Homo sapiens: one gene and its partners. The protein of the gene in region 5 interacts with the protein of the main gene of each other region in a biochemical or structural test. Each region holds a gene or a part of one and is shown on either strand. Other genes may lie near its edges. The genes, in order: OR8G1, SLC15A2, PLXNB1, CCDC134, MAGI1, KIDINS220 and ZSCAN30.

Region 1 (4,077 bases), on a different chromosome or scaffold from region 5:
GGAAATATCATCTTCCAACAGTGATACCAACCTCATTTATTCTTTCCATTCAAAAAATAACAGAAATCATGACAATGTGTTAGTTGTAATCTCTAGTTTTTGCACAATGTTAGCCTGCAGCAGTCTCTTTTCTGCCCGATTCAACTAACTAAACTTGTCTTCCTTATTTCTTCCATTATTTTTTTTTTTTACTTCAGAAACCTATTCAAAACTTTAGAGTCAAAGTTGCAGACCCACGTGTGTGTTGTGATTGTACACTCCAGTATGCCCACTGCTTTGCCTTTTACTATTCTAATTTGTGCTGCCTGCTTATTGTCCAATGTGCCATGGGCTGTAATCTAGGATGAGATTATGAAAAAAAACTCCTTGTTGATTTTAAATGTGCAGCCATAGTAAAATCACTGATCTAGACCTACTTCATTCTCTTTAAAGACAATCAAACCTAGTGTTTTGTACGATTTTTCAGAGCTTCTAATATGTAACTTCCCATATAGTCTTTTTCAATTCCTTCATTTATTTGATGCACATTCAATATAAAATTTCATCTAATTTTATTTTGAAGAAAGTGAAAAACCATAAAAAGTAAGAAGTGGGGCACTTATATGGACTTATATGGAAACTAACTTCTCCAAAACTTAAATACTTTCTTCAGTTATAAAAATTAGGAGGCAGAATTTAAATCAACAAAGAAACTCAAAAATTAAGTATTATATCAATCCCTAAATTATTACACCATGCTTCCTGAAATACAATTATAAACAGATTTGAATTTTCAGTCAACTATATAAATTACCTATTTACACACAAATTAAAACTAAATATGTCTATTTGCAAGGAAATAAAAAGTGTGTTATTTTAAAGTTTTTAACTTTATTATCAGTACAAGATAACTTGTCAGGATGTGCCTAGTCCTCTCAAGTATATTAATCACAGTGTGTGCTGTGAACTAAATTACATTAGAAGCATGTAAGAAATGCAGAATTTCAAGCTCCACTCAGACCTATTGCATTAGAATCTGCATTTTAGCAGAGATAATCCTTGTGCACAAATATTTACCACCAATTGACAATTTTAAAATTGACAGGGAATTCGTTTACAGGAAAATTAGACAACTGGGGAAATGTCAAGTGTAATTGCTGGTTTTTTCCAAGAATTTGGTCCCTGAGAAATGGAAATCCCGGGAGAGTATTTGTCTCCATGTTTTTTGGTACCTCGCATATCTTAACCCAGGGCAAGCCTTTATAGCACAGCAATCAGAGCTGCTCAGGTGAGGATGCTTGCCACCCTGAAGCTGGAGAAACAAAAACTGCAAAGTCATAATTAGAAATACTGACCTGTGATGCAGACCAGCTTCAAAGTGACTCTGAGACTGAGGGCTGGGCCCTGCCCTCTCAACACTAAAGATTCCAGAATGCTGGGTGTCTATGACTCTCAACACCAACATTAATGCCATGTCAGGAAGAGAACATTCCAAGCCAACATTCTCCATGTCAGGAAGAGGAAATTGCAAGTAAAATCAAGCATTGAAGTTTTTAGGCAGTGGAAAGGTGAGTGTTTTCATCCATCACTTGTGATTTGAGACTATTAGATCTGGAAATAATCTTTGCAAAAAATCAGGAAACTATTATTCCTCATTATCTTTACTTATTCAATTATTTATGAAATGCTCTTTTAAACCCTCTTCAGTGGGCCAGCCACTTTGCTAGTTACTAGAGATACAGAGGAGAATAGCTCGGGTCCATCACTGGGCTTATAGAATAACTCAGTCAAAGAAAATGTGCTGTCTGGAAATCAGAGTTTTTGGAGCTTACAGTAGGAAGATCAACTTAATTACAATAAACTGGACAATATTTACATGATGACTTCATTTTAAATGAGATTTGAAAAGTAAATATTTACCAGACATCAGAAAGACAGGTGTTGGTAAGACTATCTAATGTAAAAGAAATAGCTAATGAAAAGGCTCAGTGAATGTGACAGACTCTAGGAACTGAAAGAAGCGAAGTGTTCCTGTAGCCAAGGAGGAGGATCACAGGAACTAAAAGTGAAGAGGGACAAGAGATAGCATGAATCTGTGTACTTTATCCTAAGTGTAATTAAGGCAACCTGTTCATCAGTGTCCCTGAAAGTGAATCATCATCTGATTTCTGGTCCAGTGTATTTTATGACCAGGAATAAGTAGCTCATTCAACTTCTAAGAACTCAAATACTAGAATATTTTCCTTTACATTTATTTTTATTTTTTTTCAGTAGTAAATTATTTATATATTTTTATTATTATTATACTTTAAGTTTTAGGGTACATGTGCACACTGTGCAGGTTAGTTACATTTATTAAAAGATGTATTCATAAATCTTTCAAATGCCACACACAAAATTAAAGCTTATCCTTGCTCTTCTTAGGATACATGAAAATGCTCACTAATTATCTCATTGCCTGCAAATATTTCCCAAGCTCTTGACAGCTTTTGTGTGCCTTCCATCTTATCAATGTCTTTCTTTTAAAAATATATCCATTGGAAAACGATGGACTCCAGGTGTAATATGATAAGTGTGGAATGGTGCTTTCTAACCTCATGAGCACATAGAAGATGGTCATATTAATATGGCATAATGAAGTTACTGGATGAGAAAGCTTGTGGCTGATGGTGACCAGTGAACTGGCTCTGAATGCCACAGTCTTATCTGTGAGAACCCGAGGGCTACAGACCAATACCTCTGAACCATTATGAACCTTTCCCTACATTTCAGTTCCATGGCATATGAGTTGGAAGCTATGTTACAGATCTTACATGGATTGCTAGTCATCATAGTCTAGCCATTATTTTTTTTATAAATGAAATCTGAATCTCCCCTTGCTTTATCCATCATCCACTATTCTATGGACTTCATTTAGTTAATACAGAAGTACACTTTTATGTTTTCTTATGAATTGTATTCAAACCAGATATGTTGTACATAAAGAATTAATCATTTAAACTAAGACTGGAAGTTAAGTATTTTTCTCACTCAATTTTAGCTTGTTTTTTTTAGCTATTTTCAGTGTCTAGAACCAACCACATTTTGCTGGTTGTCATAATATTTTAGGACTGAAGTTACAGTAACTTGGGAATATTGTTAACCAAAGGGTGTGTGTAGACCATACCATGGGGAATTGTCAATTCCCAAATCCATGTATAACTCACAAAAAGAAAGTTTCACAGTTTAATTCCATAGAACTCTTCCCAGCTGTAATCCCTACTATGATGATTACAATTAAAGTAATCAAAAACGTAAATGACTAAAAAAGTAGAGAAAAATGCTTTTGATATTCATGATGTTCAGTGACCTTACCTTATTCTTTGATATTATATAATTTATAACCCTACTTAGCTGGCTTTGGTCAGACCTTTTATTGCTACTGTCATATATACCCAATTTTTAACACGCAGGAGTAAACATAATAGACCAGGAGCCCTATATTTTTTATTTGTTCTTGTATTAACAGAAGACTATATTTTGTGTACATGTAAAGTATTTTTCAGAGCCTCATATTGATCCTATAGTGATCACATGAGGACACATAAATAATAGAAAATACATTTTTAAATGTATATATAACAGAATAGCTCTGAATTCGTTCGGGAAACCATTCAAAAGTTGCATGCCTCTCTAACTTTACTTCAGTTATTGAAATAATTGACACATCATCCCTTATTATGGTGAATATTAGACTTAGTATCAAGTCTCTACAACAGTATTTCTCTTCTTCTTAACACAGTCCTGTTGGGTTGTATAAACAATCAATTCACGTATTCATTGTATTGGCTATTTCTTCCAGTTTTATTTTATCTGTACATTAAATGATCACTCATTTCCATTTTAATCTTAACTAAATTATTGAAAACATTGTTAACAGGATAGAATTAGATTGAGAGTTCTATTAAAGCAGGGAATGTGTCATTTTACTTTTCATGCATTTTGGCTTCGGGTCAGTATTCGACCCCTTGTCTCTCAGTAATGATGGCTGAATAAAAGAGCGAGCTAGAATAGGTGCAGCAAACCACCATGGCACATGTATATCTATGTAACAAACCT
Region 2 (3,500 bases), about 57 Mb from region 5:
GACTTCCACTTCTGTGATTACATGAAAGTCTCAATAGATATCTCTCTTAACAACATACCATTTTGTCTTCTCTTGGCTCCTGCAATTTTGATAACTCCAAAAGTCAGGAAATGTAAGTCAGCTCCCTCTTTATGAGATTTGCCAGCCACTCCCACAGTTCAGCATTCTGTCCTTAGCGCTGATATACTGAATGTGCTATTTAGGTTTGTGCAAAAGTTATTGTGGTTTTTGCCATTGAAAGTAATGGCAAAACTGCAATAACCTTTGCACCAACCTAATAAATGAGAAGCTAAGAACCTTGTTTGTGTATCAACTGCAGTTGTGTTTGCAATGGGAAGCAAAATATACAATAAACCACCCCCTGAAGGAAACATAGTGGCTCAAGTTTTCAAATGTATCTGGGTAAGTCCATAAATTGTTTTCTTGCCTTTTTCAATCAAAAGAAAGAGATGCTATGCTGAGAATATGGGCCTTCAAACGTGGGCATACATTTTTCTCAATGACCTCTATTCTATTTTCATGTTTTTTAACAAGCTAAGATTAACCAGTCTTCTTCTTATGCCTCTACTTAACCATTAAGTTAAAAAAAGTAATCATCTTTTTAAGTTGGCAAAAATCTTCTGAAATGTAATTATATATAGACAGATAACATTTTTTCTTTTTTGTTGTTATTTTTTGTTTTGAATGGCAAGTTCTTTCTTAAAGTGATAGATAAAATTATATCAGAAATATTCTGAAATTCAATGCCTGATTAGGTCAAAGAGTTGGAATAAGTCACTAGAAGTATGGTGTTTGAAGGAAGGTATAATAAGTTGGAAAAGGCAGAGGATGTTTTTCTCTTTGTCTCTCCCATGATGTCTACTCTCTGCCCTAGTTTGCTATTTCCAATCGTTTCAAGAACCGTTCTGGAGACATTCCAAAGCGACAGCACTGGCTAGACTGGGCGGCTGAGAAATATCCAGTAAGTTGGAAATGCAGAAACATCTTATGGCTTGATAGAGTCTTTCCTAATGTTCAAAATGATTCTATCCTACTGCATTCAACCTCCTCTCTACTGTTTTTTGGACACTTCTACTTTAAGCAAGAAAGCCATGTACAGAACTTCTAGCATTTCTGCCCATTCTTCCTCCTTTTCGCAGAAGCAGCTCATTATGGATGTAAAGGCACTGACCAGGGTACTATTCCTTTATATCCCATTGCCCATGTTCTGGGCTCTTTTGGATCAGCAGGTAAGAATAGTTCTTTTGGACATTACCGCTCCTTACAGCCACTTCCCTCTCACAGGAAAGGGATTTCTCATAACAGGATCTGTTTGCCCTAGGGTTCACGATGGACTTTGCAAGCCATCAGGATGAATAGGAATTTGGTGAGTAGAAGAGATTTTCCAGAGAAGTCTATTATTTTCTTCATCATCCATATTGGGGAAAAATTAATTTCTTTGTGATTTTGCCTGAAAACTAACAAGATCTTCAGAGAAGTGCTTTTAGCCTGAAGGTACCGTGTAGGCAAAGATAAAGAAAGCTAGTTTAGAAATAAAAACCAGAATCTTCTCTTTAGAAATCAGGAACATAAGGATGAGAAAGTTTCAATGTATACAAGGAAGTATTGAGAGGCTAGCAAATGATGTGATGCGTAACCTGGGATAGTGATTTTCTTCTGTCTAAGCCTATCCCAGAGTACAGCAGGGACAGGTTTGAGTGGCACTACTACGCAATTGGTCTATCTCTTCAACAAGGATCACAGCAGGGGACCTGTGGGAAATGGAATATTTTGTATGTATGGATATGGAAAGAATGAGAAGGTTATACGTATTATTTTCTCTTTTTCCAAACTCCATTCTTTAGCCCACTCAAATAAGGTACCATCTCTACTCTCAATTGTTCTTTTCCTAGATTAGTGTATTATTTTTCTATCTTCTCAGTTTTTGAAAAGACAGAGTAGAATGATACCAGGGTCTTATTAGTCAGTCTATTTGGAGCCTGCAAAATATAATTTTACCTTTTCCCTTCCTCTGGCTGTCTCTTATTTACCATGGTGGTCTTCTTGTTGACCCTCTGGAGAACAACTTTGGAAACACTATGTGTCAGGGAGAGTCTTCACCCTAACCATGATGTCTTGCCCTTCATATTATTACAACCTAGAACTGCAGTTGCTGAGATCAATAAAAATGCACTGACTCTATTCTCTTTCAAGTTAAGGAAAGCATAATACATAGAAAATAATTTCTCCCTTAGGCCCATCTGCCTGGCAAACATAGCCAGAAGCTTTCCCAAGTCTGTTCCCATCCCCCAAATAATCTTAACAGCAAAATAGTGGCCCTGAACCAAAGACCTGATGAATTTTCTCTCATATGTTTCTCACTTGCTAACTAGCAAAATTATTGATCTAGGCCAACATTTTTTTTTCTTTTCTTCAGACATCAACTAAATTAATTTGTTAAAATGTTTCAGGGGTTTTTTGTGCTTCAGCCGGACCAGATGCAGGTATGTGACTCTTCTATAGCCATGGGGACTTATTTGTTTCCTTATCTATGCCTCCACCTGCAGTATTACGATTAACAACCATAATTTGATGCTTTTCTCCTTGTACGCTGATAAGGGCCAAGCTTCGACATGAAAACATTCCCATTAAGCCCCACCCTTCTCCTTCACATCCCCTGTTAAGTACTTAACTTGCAACGGGTTAAGTGTAAGCATTGGATTTTTTTCCAAGTCAAGATAGTATAATCAAAATCTTGTAAAAGAAATTGTAAGGCTTATTTTGTGAGCAATGAAGTCATGAGAGGAAAGAGCTCACAATAAGGCTGGCAGAAAGACAGGCTCAGAGTGAAACTTGTCCCTTGGGATATTTGAAAGCTAAAATGCTATGCAAGGGAAATAGGGTCTTGGGTGTAAATGGACTGAGGAATGTGGAGTCATTCTGTACTTACAATGACAAAAGTGTGTGTAGATGTGAGACAGAGTGTAAACAAGCAAATGAGTGCAGTGCTCACACTCATGATAGGAGAATATTTGTAGCTAATCCTTTTTATCATGGTGTTACAGGTTCTAAATCCCCTTCTGGTTCTTATCTTCATCCCGTTGTTTGACTTTGTCATTTATCGTCTGGTCTCCAAGTGTGGAATTAACTTCTCGTAAGTGTTCACTATGTCTGTATGGATTACTCTAAATTGACTCAGTCTTTGCCCAGTTTGAAAAAGATTCAATGTCAGTATTTTTCTTAGTGAGGATTGGTTTTAGTTTATCATCTATCTGCTTCTATTTTTCCATGTTAGACTAACTGCCTATTGACCCTGAAAAATGTGAATTAGATATAATTAATGAGAGTCAAAGCCATTACTGTGGACTTAACTGTGTAATGGTGGTGGAGGGGCAGGTCTAGGTTTCATGCCAAACCAAAAATATGTGAAATTTAGCTCCTAAACCAACTTTCTTCTTTGTTCTTGAATGTTGTCTCTTCAAAGAAACTCAAGGCCTTTGATGACTACTAATCCCTTTAAA
Region 3 (3,500 bases), about 17 Mb from region 5:
GCAAGAAGGAATTCACAGGTGTGGCTGAGAGAATGGGCCCCGCCCTCCAGAACTCTGCCCAAACCCACTCCCATCACACGGGATTGGTGCTTAACAGGTGCTTAACCTGGCCTCTTCTGCTTAACAGACCTCATGACTGAGATGACCGATCTCACCAGTGACCTCCTGGGCAGCGGCATCCCCTTCCTCGACTACAAGGTGTATGCGGAGAGGATCTTCTTCCCTGGGCACCGCGAGTCGCCCTTGCACCGGGACCTGGGTGTGCCTGAGAGCAGACGGCCCACTGTGGAGCAAGGGCTGGGGCAGCTCTCTAACCTGCTCAACAGCAAGCTCTTCCTCACCAAGGTACCCCCAGCTGCATCTTCCTGGCCTGCCCCTGGCCCTGCCCCTTCTCCAGGGCATGGTTTCTGAGCCCGCCCCTCTGTCCCCCTAAACCCCTTTTCCCATCCCTTCTCTTTGGCTGCAGTTCATCCACACGCTGGAGAGCCAGCGCACCTTTTCAGCTCGGGACCGTGCCTACGTGGCATCTCTGCTCACCGTGGCACTGCATGGGAAGCTTGAGTATTTCACTGACATCCTCCGCACTCTGCTCAGTGACCTGGTTGCCCAGTATGTGGCCAAGAACCCCAAGCTGATGCTGCGCAGGTCTGTGTGGCTGTTGGGGCTGGGTGGGCCCTGGACAGCTGGAGCTGGGGTGGGGCCTCGGGCTGGGGGGTCTGCAGGATAGAGAGGCCCGCAGCCCCACCTGCTGACCCTGGCACTCCCCTTTCCCATCATCTCAGGACAGAGACTGTGGTGGAGAAGCTGCTCACCAACTGGATGTCCATCTGTCTGTATACCTTCGTGAGGGTGAGGGGGCAGAGGTGGACAGGGCTCCTGTCCAGGGAGGGTCAGGCCCTCCAAACTTCTAAGCCCTCAGCCACCATGCAGCTCGGACACTTGTGCCAGAGCAGAGACTCCTGCTCAGCCTGTCCTCAGTCCCCTTAAGCCCATGTCCTGTCCCCTTCCCCAGTGTGCGTCATGTCCCATACACCTCTGCCACCTGCTGGGGGGCCCTAACTGCCTGTGCTCTCCTAGGACTCCGTAGGGGAGCCTCTGTACATGCTCTTTCGAGGGATTAAGCACCAAGTGGATAAGGGGCCAGTGGACAGTGTGACAGGCAAGGCCAAATACACCTTGAACGACAACCGCCTGCTCAGAGAGGATGTGGAGTACCGTCCCCTGGTGAGGGTGTGCAAGTGTGTGGCCTGCAGTCTGAGTGCGGTGAGGGCGAGGGTGGAGAGTGTGTGGGTGTGTGGGGTCTGGACACCAGCTTCTGATGTGGTACCTGGATGTAGAGCTGGGTTGACCTCTGGCTGGCTCCTGGAGAGAGCCCATCAGACTAGCTTAGCAGGATAGCAGTTTAGGGCAGACTTTGATGATAAGGCCTCTATGTGCCCCAGGCTAGGGATGGAACTAGGGTAGCCACAACCAGGGTTTGGGAGAAGCCAGCCCTACCTTAGACCATGGGCTTGAGCTGTGTCAGGGCCTGACCCTGTCTGCCTGGCCCTCCTACCAGGAATGCGGCCTTGCCCACCAAGCCAGCCTCACTCTGGCAGGCACTTCTCTCTGGGTTTGCTTTCCCCTTAGTTACGCACAAGGGTTCCTGTGGGAAACCCCCATTCAGGCCTGCTGAACCCCTCCCCTGTCGGATAGGTGGGAATATTTGCTCCCGATGGTGGGAATGCAGGCTTCCCGAAACTCCGTCAGCCTGACCCATTCAGCCAGGAACCTGGGGATCTGAGTGATGAGGGACTTGTGCTCACTCATTTTTTTCTGCCATTTACCCCATAGTGGTTTACAAGTGCACTGCGCTAGGTGCTGGGGTCACAATGGGGAGGAAGCTGCTGTCCCTGGGGAAGGCAGGCAGGTGAAGAGACGAGAATTAGGGATTGTGTGGTGCGTGGGGATTGGAGGCAGCAGTTTCTCATGAGTTGTCTCTGCCCTTGGCCTGTGTCTTGGTCATCCTGAGTGCACATGAACCCTGATGGCTCCTGTGTGTCCTGCACAGACCTTGAATGCACTATTGGCTGTGGGGCCTGGGGCAGGAGAGGCCCAGGGCGTGCCCGTGAAGGTCCTAGACTGTGACACCATCTCCCAGGCAAAGGAGAAGATGCTGGACCAGCTTTATAAAGGAGTGCCTCTCACCCAGCGGCCAGACCCTCGCACCCTTGATGTTGGTGAGGGCGTGGAGAGCCCCTGGGGACCTGAGCCACTGTTGGGCCTGGGCTGGCCCCGGACCAACTCTGCAGGGACAACTCATCACTCAGGGTGGGGAGGATGCTGGGAGGCAGGCAGAAGCTGGCTTTGGAACATCTTTCTTGGACAGCCTCTCATCTGGGGAGGGGGTCCCTGCTCTTGGTCTTTGGAGAGGTTGAGTAAGGCTGCCCCATGATGGAGGGGCTGGTGTCCCTGTGGAGGAGGAGATGGGCTCCACTATGGGAAGGGTATCTTCCAGCCCTGCACCCAGTTCTGCCTTGCCCTTGCAGAGTGGCGGTCTGGGGTGGCCGGGCACCTCATTCTTTCTGACGAGGATGTCACTTCTGAGGTCCAGGGTCTGTGGAGGCGCCTGAACACACTGCAGCATTACAAGGTAGGAGGAGTGGGAGCTGGAGGAGGGCATGGTGGGGTGGGACTGGTGGAGGGATCACCAGCTGTGCTCAGCAGGTCCCAGATGGAGCAACTGTGGCCCTCGTCCCCTGCCTCACCAAGCATGTGCTCCGGGAAAACCAGGATTATGTCCCTGGAGAGCGTGAGTACCGCTCCCATCACGGTCCTCTGCCCCTGCTGTGCCCAGCCCGGAGTCATGGGGAAGGTCCTCTGGGCCTCAGGGCAGGCTTGTGCCTATTTCCATTCGGCCCAGGAAATCCCTCAACCAGGTGCCCCCACCCCTGGGAGAGCTGGCAAGAAACAGGGGGCCTGGGGAGGTGGCACCTGGGGAGGGGTGACAGCTGTGGGCTCTTGGCACAGGGACCCCAATGCTGGAGGATGTAGATGAGGGGGGCATCCGGCCCTGGCACCTGGTGAAGCCAAGTGATGAGCCGGAGCCGCCCAGGCCTCGGAGGGGCAGCCTTCGGGGCGGGGAGCGTGAGCGCGCCAAGGCCATCCCTGAGATCTACCTGACCCGCCTGCTGTCCATGAAGGTGGGGTGGGGCTGCCAAGGTAGTGGGGCCTGGGCTGAGAGGGAGCATGGCCACTCGTGGGATTTGGGGGTGGTGTGGGGCTCGTGCAGGCACAGTGCCGGGGGGTGTCTGAGGCTGGGCTGCTGCTGAGGGCCCTTTGCTGACCACACCTCTCTGCTTCTTCCTTCCCACAGGGCACCCTGCAGAAGTTCGTGGATGACCTGTTCCAGGTGATTCTCAGCACCAGCCGCCCCGTGCCGCTCGCTGTGAAGTACTTCTTTGACCTGCTGGATGAGCAGGCCCAGCAGCATGGCATCTCCGACCAGGACACCATCCACA
Region 4 (3,500 bases), on a different chromosome or scaffold from region 5:
AAGTTATACTAGAGGAAAACATTGTTTTTCTAGGCCCTCAAGACAGAATATTTGAGTGTCAGGCCGTAACAGCAGAGTTAGAACCAGAGAAAAAAGCTATAGTAGCCGGGTGCAGTGACTCACACCTGTATCCCAGTACTTTGGGAGGCCAAGATGGGTGGATCACTTGAGCCCAGGAGTTCAAGACTAGCCTGGGCAATGTAGCAAAACCCACGTCTAAGAAAAATACAAAAAATAGCCGTGCATGGCGGCATGCACCTGTAGTGCCAGCTATTCAGGAGGCTGAGGTGGGAGGATGGCTTGAGCCTGGGAAGTGGAGGCTGCAATGAGCCATGACTGTGCCACTGCACTCCAGCCTGGGCAGCAGAGCAGGACCCTGTCTCAAAAAAAAAAAAAAAAATTACAGGAACTAACAAAAAACATTTAAGAGAATTACCACCCCAGCCAAGTGAAAAGATGCATCCTTTCAAGGGGAGAAAGAGGAAGGGTGGAAGGCAGCAATGTATGTCCTGGGAATCACCAGGAAAGTGAACTTCACAGTGCTCAATAAATAATTGTGTTGGCTGGGCATAGTGGCTCACGCCTGTAATCCCAGTATTTGGGAGGCTGGGGCGAGAGGATCTCTTGAGCTCAGGAGTTGGAGACCAGCCTGGGCAATATAGCAAGACCTCATCTCTACTAAGGAAAAAATAAATAAAAAGGGCCGGGCGCGGTGGCTCACATCTGAATCCCAGCACTTTGGGAGGACAAGGCAGGCGGATCACCTGAGGTTGGGAGTTCGAGACCAGCCTGGCCAATATGGAGAAACCCCGTCTCTACTGAAAATACAGAATTAGCTGGGCATGGTGGCGCATGCGTGTAATCCCAGCTACTCAGGAGGCCGAGGCAGGAGAATCGCTTGAACCCGGGAGGTGGAGGTTGCAGTGAGCCGAGATTGCGCCATTCCACTCCAGCCTGAGCAACAAGAGTGAAACTCCATCTTAAAAAAAAAAAATTAAATTAAAATAAATAAATAATTGTTGCATGTTGCCTGAATATGAACAGGTATTCTATGTAGTACCTATGGTTCCAAAGTGAGTGAGTAGCAAGCCCCCTTACCCCGAGACTGCCCTGCCTTCCTCCCTGCCCTTTGTCCCTTCTTACTTTCTGATGACAAAAGTCAAGGAAGGAGGAAAACTCCAGAAGTTTCATATCTTCTCTGCCTGGGCTTCCTTGACCAGATGCTTTCCTGGGAGACCAGGATAGGGGATGTGGAAGGAATACTGTTGACGAGCCCCTCCTCCCCAGGCACAGTGCCTCACCCAGACCTCCCTCCCTGCAGCAGGGAGGTGACCTCCTTATCCCTGTTCTACAGCTGAGAAGGCTGAGGCTCAGAAAGGCTGGGCAAGCTGCTCGAGGTCCCAGAGACGGGCGGGGGCAGGGCTCCAGCCTAGAGCTCTAGCCACTGACCCTGTGCTCTAAGTGTTCCTGTGTTACACACACTTATCTTTCTCCCCACCTCCTAGCATCCCACGGCTCTGTATTGTGTGCCTGCTGGCCCTGGGATAAGAGCTGCAGCTTCAGGGCTCCCCAAAGCTGGGTTCTTGGTATACAGAGGCTGCACTATGTCGGGGGAAGCTGCTGTTCACCTGTGCACTCTATTTTATGTAACACCGATCTCTGAGTCTCACTCTCTTTCTTTGGGTTATTCTTCCAGCTCAAGAGGTTTGGATATGGACCTTCTTCAATTCCTGGCCTTCCTCTTTGTCCTGCTTTTGTCTGGGATGGGAGCCACAGGCACCTTGAGGACCTCCCTGGACCCAAGCCTGGAGATCTGTATCCTTTGGGGTTGTAGTTAATGAGCTGTCTTTGAGAGGTCTATAAATGAGGTTCTTCTACTCAGGGATTCCAGGGATAAGCAGGCCCAGCTGGCGGGAACAGGGAGAAAAGGTGAGGTGCTCTAGCCAGACCTTGAGCAAGTCAGGTCTCTCCGGAGCTTCAGCTTCCGCGTATGGTAAATGGAGATGACAAGGCCCATCTCTAGACTGCAAAGGCTCAGTGAGGACTGTGCATGGCCTGGCACCTTGTGGGCAAGATCCTGGGTGGAGACTCAGGAATTCTGGATTACTGGCCCATCTGGACCCTGGTGAACTGGGCCACCTGCTCCAGGCCAGGCCTCAAGGACACGAAGATGAATTACAACAAGTCCCCTGGCTTTGAGGTGTCCATAAGCCCAGGGGGAGAAAGTATCCAAACAAATGATCATGTTACTCTGTGACCAGTGCTCTGATGGGCACAGGAGGGGTCAGGGAGAAACACTGTGTGATGGTTTTTGAGCCAGGCCTTGAAAGGAAAGAAACTCCTAGAGGAGGGTGAGGGGCATCCTGGGCAGAGAGGGTGCAGCGCGAGCAGAGAGGTGGAGGCTCTGGAACAGTAGAATGCTTGTGGAGACGGCAGGAAGACCACAGCAAAGGGAAGGCAGGAGCCAGGTCTGGAGGCTTGGTTTCAGGCTTCTGGGTGTGGAGCGCCATGGGAACTGGATGAATAGTGCGTTGCAGGTCCATGCACTTGTCAGTTTGTTCATTTCCTGGAGGCTTCTAGCCCTGGGTGTCCATGGCCCTTGCAGATACTTGCTGGTCAGGAATGAGCCTTCTGAGGCAAGACTGCTGGATTGTCCAGGCAGGGCTATTGATGCCAGCCCCTTAACTTAATTCTGCCCAGACAAGAAGATGTTTGAGGTGAAGCGGCGGGAGCAGCTGTTGGCACTGAAGAACCTGGCACAGCTGAACGACATCCACCAGCAGTACAAGATCCTTGATGTCATGCTCAAGGGGCTCTTTAAGGTGTGTGCAGGCAGGGGGCAGCTCATGGCAGGTCCAGTCTTTGATCTAGGCACTGATGGGTAAACAGGAGTTCCCTAACGGGTTGGTGTTCAGGGACAGGGGAACTGCGCACACGTAAGACTTGAAGTGGGGTTTAAATAAATGGGGATGGGAGCAGTCTGTGATGGGCACTGCGAAGCCACTCAGCCCTGGCGGGATTCCCTCAGGTGCTGGAGGACTCCCGGACAGTGCTCACCGCTGCTGATGTGCTCCCAGATGGGCCCTTCCCCCAGGACGAGAAGCTGAAGGATGGTATGGTCTGCCCTGCCCCGCCCTGTCCTCCGCACCACCCGATCTTCTCTAGCTGCTCCTTCTCTCCTGTTCTTGTCACTCTTTTTTTCTCCCCGGAAGTGCCCTCTTGTGGCACCTTCTAAGTGGTCCCCTTGGGCAGATGGGCGTTTCGTGAGTGGCCTCCCTAATTAACTGGCTACTTTTTAGCAATAGCATTTCTTTTTTTTTTTTTTTTTTTTTTTTTGAGACAGAGTCTCACTCTGTCGCCAGGCTGGAGTACAGTGGTGTGATCTCGGCTCACTGCAACCTCCACTTCCCGCGTACAAGTGATTCTCCTGCCTCAGCCTCCCAAGTAGCTGGGACTACAGGCACATGCCGCCACACCCAGCTAGTTTTTGTATTCTTAAT
Region 5 (3,893 bases):
TGGGACTTCGAGGAAACCCGACAGCGGGGCATGCCGACCCAAGGACCGGGCGCCGGAGGGACGGAGGGACGCGCAGGCCGAGCGCGCGGCAGCCGCCAACGGCCCCAAGAGGCGGTCCCCAGAGAAGCGGAGGGAGGGCACCCGCAGCGCCGACAACACTTTGGAGAGGAGGGAGAAGCACGAGAAGAGACGAGACGTCTCTCCGGAGCGGAGGCGAGAGCGGTCACCCACCCGCAGGAGAGACGGCTCCCCCAGCCGGCGGAGACGGTCTCTGGAGAGACTCCTGGAGCAGAGGAGGTCCCCCGAGCGCAGGAGAGGGGGCTCGCCCGAGCGCAGGGCCAAGTCCACCGACCGGAGGCGCGCACGCTCCCCCGAGCGCAGGAGAGAGCGGTCCCTGGACAAAAGGAACAGAGAGGACAGAGCCAGCCACCGAGAAAGGGAAGAGGCGAATCTGAAACAGGATGCCGGCAGAAGTTCCAGACATCCCCCGGAGCAGAGAAGGCGACCTTACAAAGAATGTAGCACCGACCTCAGTATCTGAGACGCTGAGTCACATTCCAACCTTTACCGTGTCAAAGGTTCTAAGAGGAAAGTCACAAACCTGAAATTATTTAGTTTCTTACCTAATGAAGCATCTGACACCTGATGATCCTATGAATAACAACAAACATTTTATGCATTTGAAATCTTATAAGAAAAAATATATATGAAAAGTATTGTGCCTGATGTATCATATTAAAGAAAGTATTTTTAAATGCATACTTTTTTGGAAATTATTTGCCAAATGCTGGCCCAAAGGGATATAAATTTTGTTTCTACGTAACCTGTAGAATCGTCAAGAATTGTTCCCGTTTTGGGGCAATCTTTTTCTCTCCTGGTTAAATGGGGCTGTTGATCATTTTCTCTACGTAAGGGAATTTATTGATTAAGTTTAATTAATTTGATATAGACTGTCATGTAGTGATGTAGTGCTATACTGTAGTCGGAAGTTTTTCTTAAAAGCAAAGAGCAAAAATGCAAAGTTTTATTTGTAAAAGCTGAGGACCCTTGGGGATGGATTAGGTTTGCCGATGATCCTAAAAGTAAGCAAACTGTATGACAAGACTACTATTGCAAATGAAGGATATTTATAGCTAAACTGCGCAGCACAAAGAAGTTTTATATTGTGAGTTATAGTTGGTTCAGAAAACAGTTTGTACTCTCCCTGGCCCAGGAAGGCACACAGACAAAAATGTCGGCCACTTTTACTCAAATACAGCCCAAGCACAGACAGTCAGGTTCGTGATCATCACCAACATCTGATAAAATCTCATTGAAGGCAATGCCATCACAGCTTTGCTCAATTACTACGAGGAAGAGACAACAAGCATCTTTCGTGTTGTCTCGTCTGATTGGAGGCTGAATAGTAGATGGAATGGGGGGACAGTGTGCCTGGTGTGAGGAAGACGTAAGATCCCCAATTTGGAAAGCATGCCCCCCTCCCTTTTAGTAGAAGCCCATGGTTGCCCTTTGCCAAACTGGGGAGGAGGCAATGAGCCTTGGTGGAAGGAACCTCTCTGTTGATATTTAAAGAAGTGAGGGCTGTGGGTATTCATTGTTAGAAATGCCAATTTCACTTTGAAACCATAGTCCAAGTCTCTAGGTTGGTAGAAGGGAAAGGAAGGAAGTGGTCCCAGTGATTCTAGGTCTGGTTGGGAAACTTCTGCCTCATGACTCTGTCCTTTGAGTCCTTTGGACAGCAGCACAAAACATAACAATTTTTATTTTTAAACAGACCCATTCTTTTTGATCCCACAGGAGCTGTGGTTGGGTCGGCCGTAGCCCCGGGATGTGGTTTAAGTGGATTACTGCCTAGCTGAGCCAAAATGTTTGCTTGTACCTGTTGGACCACTACAGCAAACCGCTGCTTACAGTGCATTGTGTATTTCTGTAGTACTGTTTTGCATTTTCCATAGAGACAGAAAACTTTGCAAGTCAATCACTGTTGTTCCCATGGTACTGTAAGAAAAAAAAAAAGGAAAAAGAAAAAAAAAAAGAAAACCAGCCAATCATTGCGTGTACAGAGCTAAAAATTGTAATTAATAGAGCCTGTTGGGAAAAAAAAGAAAACAACTGTTGCCTTTTTTTCTTGTATAAAAGAGAATTTATGACAAAATTTAGCTGTGAGGAATGTGATACGTGTTTATATTTCTGAATATGGAACAAATTGATTCATGGGGATATATTTTAATGTAAACTAAATCAGGTATGTAAAGTTGTTTTAAAATGGGAGACTATATAAGTAATTCTCTAAAGCTTTAGTTGGTTTGAATATCATCATTTCCTCCATGGTGAGCCTGCTTGTGAATTATTAAGCACTTGTTTGCATTCTCTGTTCTTCACTCATTTATTTCTTGCAGTGTGCTATGGACTTAATGCTCTTTCTGTATTGATGAAAAGCAGTATGTGGGCCAATCTTTTTATAAAACACTATGCATATATAAATATTACATTGTTCATAGCTTTATTTGACTTATGGGTTTATACATAACATTAGAATGAGTAGCTGTAGTTGTGTGGACATTTATAAAACAAGTTCCTTTCCTGGAACAGACACAATATACATTCTGTAGCTAAAAAGGAGGGAAAAGTCTGTGAATGCTATTTTTATTATTAAAGTTTTCCATACAAAGCATACATTGAGCTGTAGTAAGGCTGAGGAAGAGTACAACTGAATAATGATGTTCTTTTTCATCAAGTTCCTAAGAGCTGACTTGGAGATTTTATTCCCAGGGCTCCACTGCTAGGATTCTTCTCACTAGTTCTAACAAAATCTGTGATGTTAAATGACTGATGCTCTCAATTGTGATCCAGAGTTTTAAATAAATGAAATCAAGGTGGATTTTGGGAATATATCCTGAAGTTAACATCTTGATGTCCTTCTTGTTGTAAGATGATATTTGGCAATTTAAAATCTATGTGCTACCCACCTGGGCTTGTCTCAATCCGTGGACTTTTTGGTGTGGCAGTTTCACCTGAATTCCACACATCAGATTTGTTTGGAAATATTGTACTGTACAGGGACTATGCATTATGCAGAAAGATATAGTTTTCTTTGAACTGCTGTAACCTTAAATTGGAAACTGATTCTTGTGAGCCTACTTTCCTTAATCCCGCCGCCCCCCTCCCCCACTTAATGTAAATGTCTTGATGAGAGATAATGGATGAGTATTTTGTATGATGAAATCAAACGATTTAGGAATTTGTCTCCCTCCGTTACACAGTTGATGCCTGAAAGAATGTTGGGGGGGAGGACTCAACACCCTAATTGTATTTTTTAAGTTTCTTTTGTGAAAGATTTTTTAATGCATTTTTACTGTAAAAATACATGGAAATGTATGCATTCCACAACCACTATTGCTTCTGGATTGATATCTTCCTTGTCTCTATGTTGTCTCAAATGTATCAGGGTCAAGTAATCAATTGAGGGCCCCTGACTCCAACTTGATGAAATGCCGTTGTGTTGAAAGAGCAGGATCTATGCCATTGCAATAGCATAGTGCCTTGCTACTCAAAGTGTGGTCTGTGGACCAGCTGCCTCATCATCACTGAGGAGCTTGTTAGAAATGCAGATTCTCAGCCCTACTCCAGACCTACTGAGTCAGAATGTACAGTTAATAAGATCCTCAGCTATGCCTTATGCACATGAAAGTTTAAACAGCACAGCACAGTATAGCACAGAACCCTGATAATAAAACAAATCCTGCCAAGCTAAGAGCTTCATCACTTCTGGTGTGATTCTTGGGCACATTCCTTAACCTCCTCTGAAGCCTCCATTTCCTCATCTGTAAAAGGACATACTTCACAGAGCTAAGAATAGATACACATCTTTGGCAATCAGAAGAGTCCTCAGT
Region 6 (3,500 bases), on a different chromosome or scaffold from region 5:
ATTCAGTAACTGTTGGTTGAAGTACATCTTCATTGGAACACTGGCCACATAGTGTCCCTTTGAGCACCATCCTTTGGTTTTCCAGGACGCCTGCACACCCTTCACGGATATTGGTTTCTTCTGGTCTGGCATTAGATGTAGGCGCGTTCTTCCTTTGGAGATTCTTAGAAGAAGGAGGCCAGGTGAGGGGTAGGGGTAGGGGCAGGGACAGAGCAAAGTGAGAGATGCAGGAGGAGTAGCGGGAGTGAGGAGAGCGCAGGAGGAAAAGCAGAGCAGGGTGTGGAGAACAACGGGGGAGGAGGCACAGCGGGCGGCAGCGAGTAACACTGAGTGGGCAGGGCAGGGCAGCGGTGAGGAGGAGCAGCGCCTTGGGGAAGGAAGAAAATGTCCTATTTCCTTGAGAAGGTCCCCAACAAATTCACTTTGCTCCTTCTTTTTTGTTTTAGCCTTTGCTCTTGACCCTTCTTAAACTTTCTTGATTCTTCTCCTTCTTTTTCCTCATCTGTACTTTTTGCTCCTTGTTTCTTAGCTATTCTGGGATCTGAAGCAAATTCTAATTCTAAAACTTAATATTGGAAATAAACTTGTAAAACTACTTTATTTTTCTGTTTACTAAGGCCCAACTATTGGCCTCATTGCATTTTATATTTTATCAATGAAGTTGACTTTGGCCTTAAATAAAAGCTAAACGTTTGAAGTTATAAAAACAAGTGCTGTGGCCGAGCATGTGGGACATGCCCATAGTCCCAGCTGCTCAGGAGGCTGAGGCGGGAGGATTGCTTGAGTCCAGTAGTTTGAATCTAGCCTGGGCAACACAGCAAGATCCTGTCTCTTAAAAATGAAATAAAAACCAGAAACAAGTGCTAAGATTATTTGTTAATACAGTGTTTAATCATACTTTTAAATATTAACAATAAACTGATTTTATTAAAATTTATAGAAAGCTTTCTAGTAACAGCATTATAAGGTCACAGCTTTTGTTAATCTGTGTTATGTAGAATTCTTTTAAAAGAATTTGATGTTTTGATGACTTTTTAAATGGTTAGTGTACATATATATTTCCTAAGCTGATGTTTATGCCTTTTTTCTTCTTATTTGAATTTTTAAATTATTTTTTTTCTGTCTTCACAGTCACAAACTCGCAGAACCCCAAGTCTTTCGAGTCTCAATTCCCAGGATTCCAGTATTGAAATTTCAAAGCTTACTGATAAGGTGCAGGCCGAGTATAGAGATGCCTATAGAGAATACATTGCTCAGATGTCCCAGTTAGAAGGGGGCCCCGGGTCTACAACCATTAGTGGCAGATCTTCTCCACATAGCACATATTACATGGGTCAGAGTTCATCAGGGGGCTCTATTCATTCAAACCTAGAGCAAGAAAAGGGGAAGGATAGTGAACCAAAGCCCGATGATGGGAGGAAGTCCTTTCTAATGAAGAGGGGAGATGTTATCGATTATTCATCATCAGGGGTTTCCACCAACGATGCTTCCCCCCTGGATCCTATCACTGAAGAAGATGAAAAATCAGATCAGTCAGGCAGTAAGCTTCTCCCAGGCAAGAAATCTTCCGAAAGGTCAAGCCTCTTCCAGACAGATTTGAAGCTTAAGGGAAGTGGGCTGCGCTATCAAAAACTCCCAAGTGACGAGGATGAATCTGGCACAGAAGAATCAGATAACACTCCACTGCTCAAAGATGACAAAGACAGAAAAGCCGAAGGGAAAGTAGAGAGAGTGCCGAAGTCTCCAGAACACAGTGCTGAGCCGATCAGAACCTTCATTAAAGCCAAAGAGTATTTATCGGATGCGCTCCTTGACAAAAAGGATTCATCGGATTCAGGAGTGAGATCCAGTGAAAGTTCTCCCAATCACTCTCTGCACAATGAAGTGGCGGATGACTCCCAGCTTGAAAAGGCAAATCTCATAGAGCTGGAAGATGACAGTCACAGCGGAAAGCGGGGAATCCCACATAGCCTGAGTGGCCTGCAAGATCCAATTATAGCTCGGATGTCCATTTGTTCAGAAGACAAGAAAAGCCCTTCCGAATGCAGCTTGATAGCCAGCAGCCCTGAAGAAAACTGGCCTGCATGCCAGAAAGCCTACAACCTGAACCGAACTCCCAGCACCGTGACTCTGAACAACAATAGTGCTCCAGCCAACAGAGCCAATCAAAATTTCGATGAGATGGAGGGAATTAGGGAGACTTCTCAAGTCATTTTGAGGCCTAGTTCCAGTCCCAACCCAACCACTATTCAGAATGAGAATCTAAAAAGCATGACACATAAGCGAAGCCAACGTTCAAGTTACACAAGGCTCTCCAAAGATCCTCCGGAGCTCCATGCAGCAGCCTCTTCTGAGAGCACAGGCTTTGGAGAAGAAAGAGAAAGCATTCTTTGAGAAAAACAAGCAAAGGAGAAGAGTGTTACTGTACCTTTATGACAGAATTGTCCTGGATTTTGACTCCATCCACGCCCATCACCTTTCTACATTTTGCTGACAGATAACTAACCGATGATGAGGCCGAGGTAAAAGAGACATCTGCAGTGTGACAGAAGGGAGCATGAGAAGCATGGCTCACCAGCCAGCCTCTGTGGTCTTTGTAATTAGAAGCTTCAGAACTCACTAATACTACTGTACCTTTCATTGGCGCATTACCCCATAAAACTTTTTGAGACGAGGTGAGATCTGAGTATAAAGATAGGTCAGAAGTATTTTAAAGGGCTTAATGTGCCAAAAAGAAAAAAAGCTAGAGACCCTTTTTGCAAACATTTGGTGACCACACATTTGAGGGAAGACGTGGCGTTAGGTGAAGCAGAAGCAAACCCTGCTCTTAGGGGCTCACCTAGGTGAGTGCACAGCCTGTGACGCTACAGGGAGAGGCTGAGTAAACCGAGATCCAGCGTTCTGTATGGCAGGGGTATTGCTTATCACAGAGGTTCTGAAGAGTAGGAAGTACATAATGAAGAGGGCTTTAAAAATTGCCAACAAAGTGAGTCACCAGGGCTGGCAGTAGTGTGACGGGGCTGTCCTGAGCTGTTAGGAGAGTAGATGCGGGGAGGGCTGGTGACCTCCGTGGGTTTATATGTCGGAAACTCTTCTCTCCAAATCCCAGGCCTGGCTTCCAGCACCATCCAGCTGTGCCCAAGAAGCCACCCTGGTCTGTTCTCCAACTCTTTTAAATGGTGCCCAACTTTTCTAAGTGAGCTTAGCAATGAGAAGAAAAAAAAACATGAATTCTTTTTCTGGAAAATCAGGGAGACATGGGTAATAATAGGTACTAATAAATATTTATAGATGAGTGAATGAGGAAATAATTACATCAAAAAGGTCAGTGACAATTGATAAATGACAAGGAAATATTTAATTAGGTAAAACTAAATCATTGCTCTCTATACTAGGATAGACTTTATCTACTTCATCTGTTCCTAAGTCAGCATGTTAGTTCTGGGGAAGGATCATAAGAAAGGAAATACTTTTTAAAAAAAAATTTGGAAACATGTAAC
Region 7 (3,500 bases), on a different chromosome or scaffold from region 5:
CCGTTGGGGCCCTGCATTTCCTGGAGTCTCCAAGCTTCTGGGCACCACTGTGGTGTACTTAGTCCAGTCACAGCCTTGCAGTGAGCCAGGGCCCGTACTGGCACCTGGAGCTGCCCACCCTGCTGCAGCAGCCAGCGTGCCTGACTGTGTGCAGTGGCCAGACCCCACACTCTTTCGCTCACACATCCCTTGCTACTTCACGCCTGGCTCACCCTTGGCAGGGGCGAGATACAGGCTGGTAGCATTAGCCAAGCACAGCCTGCCAGGCTGAGTGGGCAGAACGATCCCAGTGGGCCCAAGCAAAACTCAGGCAAAGGCACCACTGGCCACAGAGGTTTCTGACTAGAAAAGCAACACCCCAAGTATCCTGTGACACAGTGGCATGATCTCATCTCATTGCAACCTCCACCTCCTGGGTTCAAGCTATTCTTGTGCCTCAGCTTCTGGTGTAGCTGGGGCTACAGGTGCGTGCCACCACATCTATCTAATTTTTGTATTTTTTTTTTTTTAGTAGAGACGGGGTCTCACCATGTTGACCAGGCTGGTCTCAAACTCCTGACTTCAGGTGATCCGCCTGCCTCAGCCTTCCAAAGTGCTGGGATTTCAGGTGTGGCCTACCATGCCCAGCCTGTTATGCCTCTTGATTGACTCCTTTTTCATAATGAAATGACCTTCTTTATCCCTGATATATCAGTCAGTGTTCAACCAGAGACACAAAACAAGTAATTGAATATATGTATATGTACATATGGATTTGTTAAAGAGAATTGGCTTACACAATTATGAGAGCTAGTTAGGCACTCTTATAATGCTGTTGTGTCTGATGCTAGAATTTGATGTTGGCAGAGTAGTCAGAAAGGAAGATGGAAGTAAAGTGGGAGAAGTCAAGGTCAGGCTGGAAGTCACAAGTACAAACTTGAACCTCATGAAAATGGACTGAAATCCATGTTAGTTCTTGTTGCCTTTGACCTTGGTGGTGAGGGTATCCTTCAGAAGCTGGGGCTGTTTGTCATAAACACACATACATAGGCCAGGAGTTGGAGAAGCTGAAGGAGGATCTAGAGGATGGTAGAGTAGTTGCAGGCCAAGCTGCTACAAAATGAGTCAACAAAGTGAGTCACCAGTCAGCAACAACATATGTGAACTACAAATGGCTACTATTTCCTTTCCACATTACACATCTCCCAAAAATTGCCTTTTTGGCCCGCCCAAACTGTAAACATAAAATAAATAATTCTAGGAAAACTGGTGCACTTTAAGCAAGATGACACATTATAAAAGCATCATGGTCTGCCCCTTGTCAACTTAGTACCATACATGTTTCTTTAAGCCATACTTTAATTCTCCAAATTATGATAACAATGAAGTTGTGCTTTCACCTTACATAACACTACTATCACATAACTATTAACATGCTAACCATTTCCCAAAAGAGGAAAATAGTCTTTTTGTTGGTCCATGAATGGCATTCATTCTGCTCCCAGATGATAACCCTCCTTCTTTCATATCCTATAACTTAAATACTGACATATAAAGTTAACTATTAACACATATTGTGTTAGATGATAAGATGAGAGAAGGAAGAAACATAAATTTTCAAGTAGTTTCCAAAAGAAGCTGGGTGTATATCATTGCCCACCAGAATGTTCTTCTTGAATTCAACTAGACTTTTAGACCTTCAAGACTACTGCAGATCACCCTTGGCATCAGATTAACTTAGAAGGATAGGACAGAAGCCACAGCTGACCAGTAGGCAGCACCTACCCCTCTTCGGTGGTAGTGGTACTCACAGTATTTTACACAAGCATGCAGGGTTTTTTTTTTTTTTTGGCCTTCCCATTCCAAGTTGACAGCTCAGATGCAAGGAGATGAGACTTACATTGGGAACCTGTGGGATGCATCTGGATTAGAAACTTCCACAGGAGCTAATATGTCTTATAGCAACTCCATGGACATAGCTTCTAGAATTTCTGTAAGAGACATGCCAATTACAAGAGTCACTATACTCAGGGAGGCCCAAAGTTATAGTATCCATTAGCATAGTCAATATTTATAGTTCATTTATAATTCTTTTGGTAATCAGGAAACATTTTTACCATAAACAATATTGTTGGGTAACATAATTGACCTATTAATAAGTTTTCAATAAAACAGAATGAGAAAATTAACCAAAGGTTAATTCTCATGTACAAAGGTAAAGTGTTTTGTTAACCTTTTACCCAAAAGTGATGATATGAATGTAGATTTTTTTGGGTGTTTGACCAAGGAAGCCAAACCATTCTTTCAGATTATGTTAGATTTGTAGCTTTGTGGAGTGTTGCCAGAGATGTTGCTTTCTGTGTGTGAGTTTGATGAGCTAACCTGGAGTTTGTTTGTTGGACTGGCCAAAACAAATCTGAGCCAACTATGGTCCATATCAGCTGACACTGAAGAAGTTCCTCTCAATGAAGTAAATGGAATTGAAGGGTTTCCAGAGAGATTAGCAGTGATAATACAGGCATGGGAAGTGATATAAAATTCTCAAGAATGAAACTGATAGGCCACCACCAATATTCTACCTGAATTCTATTTCTCATTTCACTTGGGGGAAACTAGGTCAAACTAACATGTGTACTAATATATGTCTAACTTAGGCATACGCTCTAGAGCAGTGATTCTCAATCTTTTTGAGATAGTAAATTTATTTGAGAAAAGGATGAAAACTGCAGACTTCTTCCTCAGATAAATGAACATAAAGACCTACATGTGGACTTTTGCTTATCATGTATTGTATTGGAAATTAATTTTCTTTGATACTTAGACTGTGTAAACAATTTTCACAAGGAAGGGATTTCAATTTAAAAATCAATTTCCAGTTCTGGGGAAAAAAAGGAAATAAATCAAAATTGTGAAGCCACATTAAAAATTAACTTGCCTTTTGCTCATATTAACAAGTAGGCTGCTGCTCAAATAAATATTAACAAGTATTAACATGTTTGTTGTGAATAAGATCTTTAAATTATGGGTAATAAGACATCTTTGACATGTCAGTGTGCATGTCCAGTTGACACTGACTTCCTAAAACTCAGAACCAGTGCTGAAAACTCTGATTCAGAAAAGAAAATAATGGCCAGTGTAATCACAGTTCCCAAGGTTCACTTTGACAGAAGTGACTGGCCTTGTATCAAGAAATACTATAATTCCCCAAGATCTTTAAAGTTGAGTTCAGGTCAGATAATTCCCTTTGTTTTTTATCAGTAAGGTCATTGGCATCACCTTGAAAAATCTTTATCTGTTAAATAACTGAAAGCCAAGTCATGGTGTTTTGTGTGTGTGTGTGTATGTGTGTGTTTTCTTTCTTTTTTTTCAGTAAGTGTTGCTTGCCTTCTATGTCTCTCTCTCTGCCTCTCTCTCTCTTTTTATAAATGGTGGTTGCCTTCTCTGTCTCTCTCCTCTCTATTTTTTTTTTTTTTTTGAGACAAAGTATCACTGTGTCACCCAGGCCGGAGTGCAGTGGTGTG

Evidence for each region.
Region 1: the proteins of MAGI1 (region 5) and OR8G1 interact in a test that uses a peptide from one of them, tested with the Homo sapiens proteins (one large-scale study listed by IntAct).
Region 2: the proteins of MAGI1 (region 5) and SLC15A2 interact in a test that uses a peptide from one of them, tested with the Homo sapiens proteins (one large-scale study listed by IntAct).
Region 3: the proteins of MAGI1 (region 5) and PLXNB1 interact in a test that uses a peptide from one of them, tested with the Homo sapiens proteins (one large-scale study listed by IntAct).
Region 4: the proteins of MAGI1 (region 5) and CCDC134 interact in a test that uses a peptide from one of them, tested with the Homo sapiens proteins (one large-scale study listed by IntAct).
Region 6: the proteins of MAGI1 (region 5) and KIDINS220 interact in a test that uses a peptide from one of them, tested with the Homo sapiens proteins (one large-scale study listed by IntAct).
Region 7: the proteins of MAGI1 (region 5) and ZSCAN30 interact in a test that uses a peptide from one of them, tested with the Homo sapiens proteins (one large-scale study listed by IntAct).

The regions. Positions count from the first base shown.
Region 1 is NC_000011.10:124,239,818-124,243,894, forward strand, and holds the start of OR8G1 (olfactory receptor 8G1), read left to right. Parts: upstream 1-1,277; 5' UTR 1,278-1,547; intron 1,548-4,077. UniProt on the Homo sapiens protein: Odorant receptor.
Region 2 is NC_000003.12:121,921,901-121,925,400, forward strand, and holds part of SLC15A2 (solute carrier family 15 member 2), read left to right. Parts: intron 1-319; coding exon 320-402; intron 403-874; coding exon 875-961; intron 962-1,139; coding exon 1,140-1,229; intron 1,230-1,321; coding exon 1,322-1,366; intron 1,367-2,450; coding exon 2,451-2,483; intron 2,484-3,044; coding exon 3,045-3,133; intron 3,134-3,500. UniProt on the Homo sapiens protein: Proton-coupled amino-acid transporter that transports oligopeptides of 2 to 4 amino acids with a preference for dipeptides. Transports neutral and anionic dipeptides with a proton to peptide stoichiometry of 2:1 or 3:1.
Region 3 is NC_000003.12:48,409,587-48,413,086, reverse strand, and holds part of PLXNB1 (plexin-B1 precursor), read left to right. Parts: coding exon 1-18; intron 19-127; coding exon 128-345; intron 346-466; coding exon 467-645; intron 646-782; coding exon 783-849; intron 850-1,077; coding exon 1,078-1,224; intron 1,225-2,050; coding exon 2,051-2,219; intron 2,220-2,528; coding exon 2,529-2,632; intron 2,633-2,703; coding exon of another isoform or gene 2,704-2,706; coding exon 2,707-2,791; intron 2,792-3,009; coding exon 3,010-3,182; intron 3,183-3,355; coding exon 3,356-3,500. UniProt on the Homo sapiens protein: Receptor for SEMA4D. Plays a role in GABAergic synapse development. Mediates SEMA4A- and SEMA4D-dependent inhibitory synapse development. Plays a role in RHOA activation and subsequent changes of the actin cytoskeleton.
Region 4 is NC_000022.11:41,807,179-41,810,678, forward strand, and holds part of CCDC134 (coiled-coil domain-containing protein 134 isoform 1 precursor), read left to right. Parts: intron 1-1,696; 5' UTR 1,697-1,712; coding exon 1,713-1,815; intron 1,816-2,700; coding exon 2,701-2,822; intron 2,823-3,028; coding exon 3,029-3,113; intron 3,114-3,500. UniProt on the Homo sapiens protein: Molecular adapter required to prevent protein hyperglycosylation of HSP90B1: during translation, associates with nascent HSP90B1 and the STT3A catalytic component of the OST-A complex and tethers them to a specialized translocon that forms a microenvironment for HSP90B1 folding.
Region 5 is NC_000003.12:65,353,026-65,356,918, reverse strand, and holds the end of MAGI1 (membrane-associated guanylate kinase, WW and PDZ domain-containing protein 1), read left to right. Parts: coding exon 1-541; 3' UTR 542-3,393; downstream 3,394-3,893. UniProt on the Homo sapiens protein: Plays a role in coupling actin fibers to cell junctions in endothelial cells, via its interaction with AMOTL2 and CDH5. May regulate acid-induced ASIC3 currents by modulating its expression at the cell surface.
Region 6 is NC_000002.12:8,729,614-8,733,113, reverse strand, and holds part of KIDINS220 (kinase D-interacting substrate of 220 kDa), read left to right. Parts: intron 1-1,131; coding exon 1,132-2,394; 3' UTR 2,395-3,500. UniProt on the Homo sapiens protein: Promotes a prolonged MAP-kinase signaling by neurotrophins through activation of a Rap1-dependent mechanism. Provides a docking site for the CRKL-C3G complex, resulting in Rap1-dependent sustained ERK activation.
Region 7 is NC_000018.10:35,280,230-35,283,729, reverse strand, and holds part of ZSCAN30 (zinc finger and SCAN domain-containing protein 30), read left to right. Parts: intron 1-3,500. UniProt on the Homo sapiens protein: May be involved in transcriptional regulation.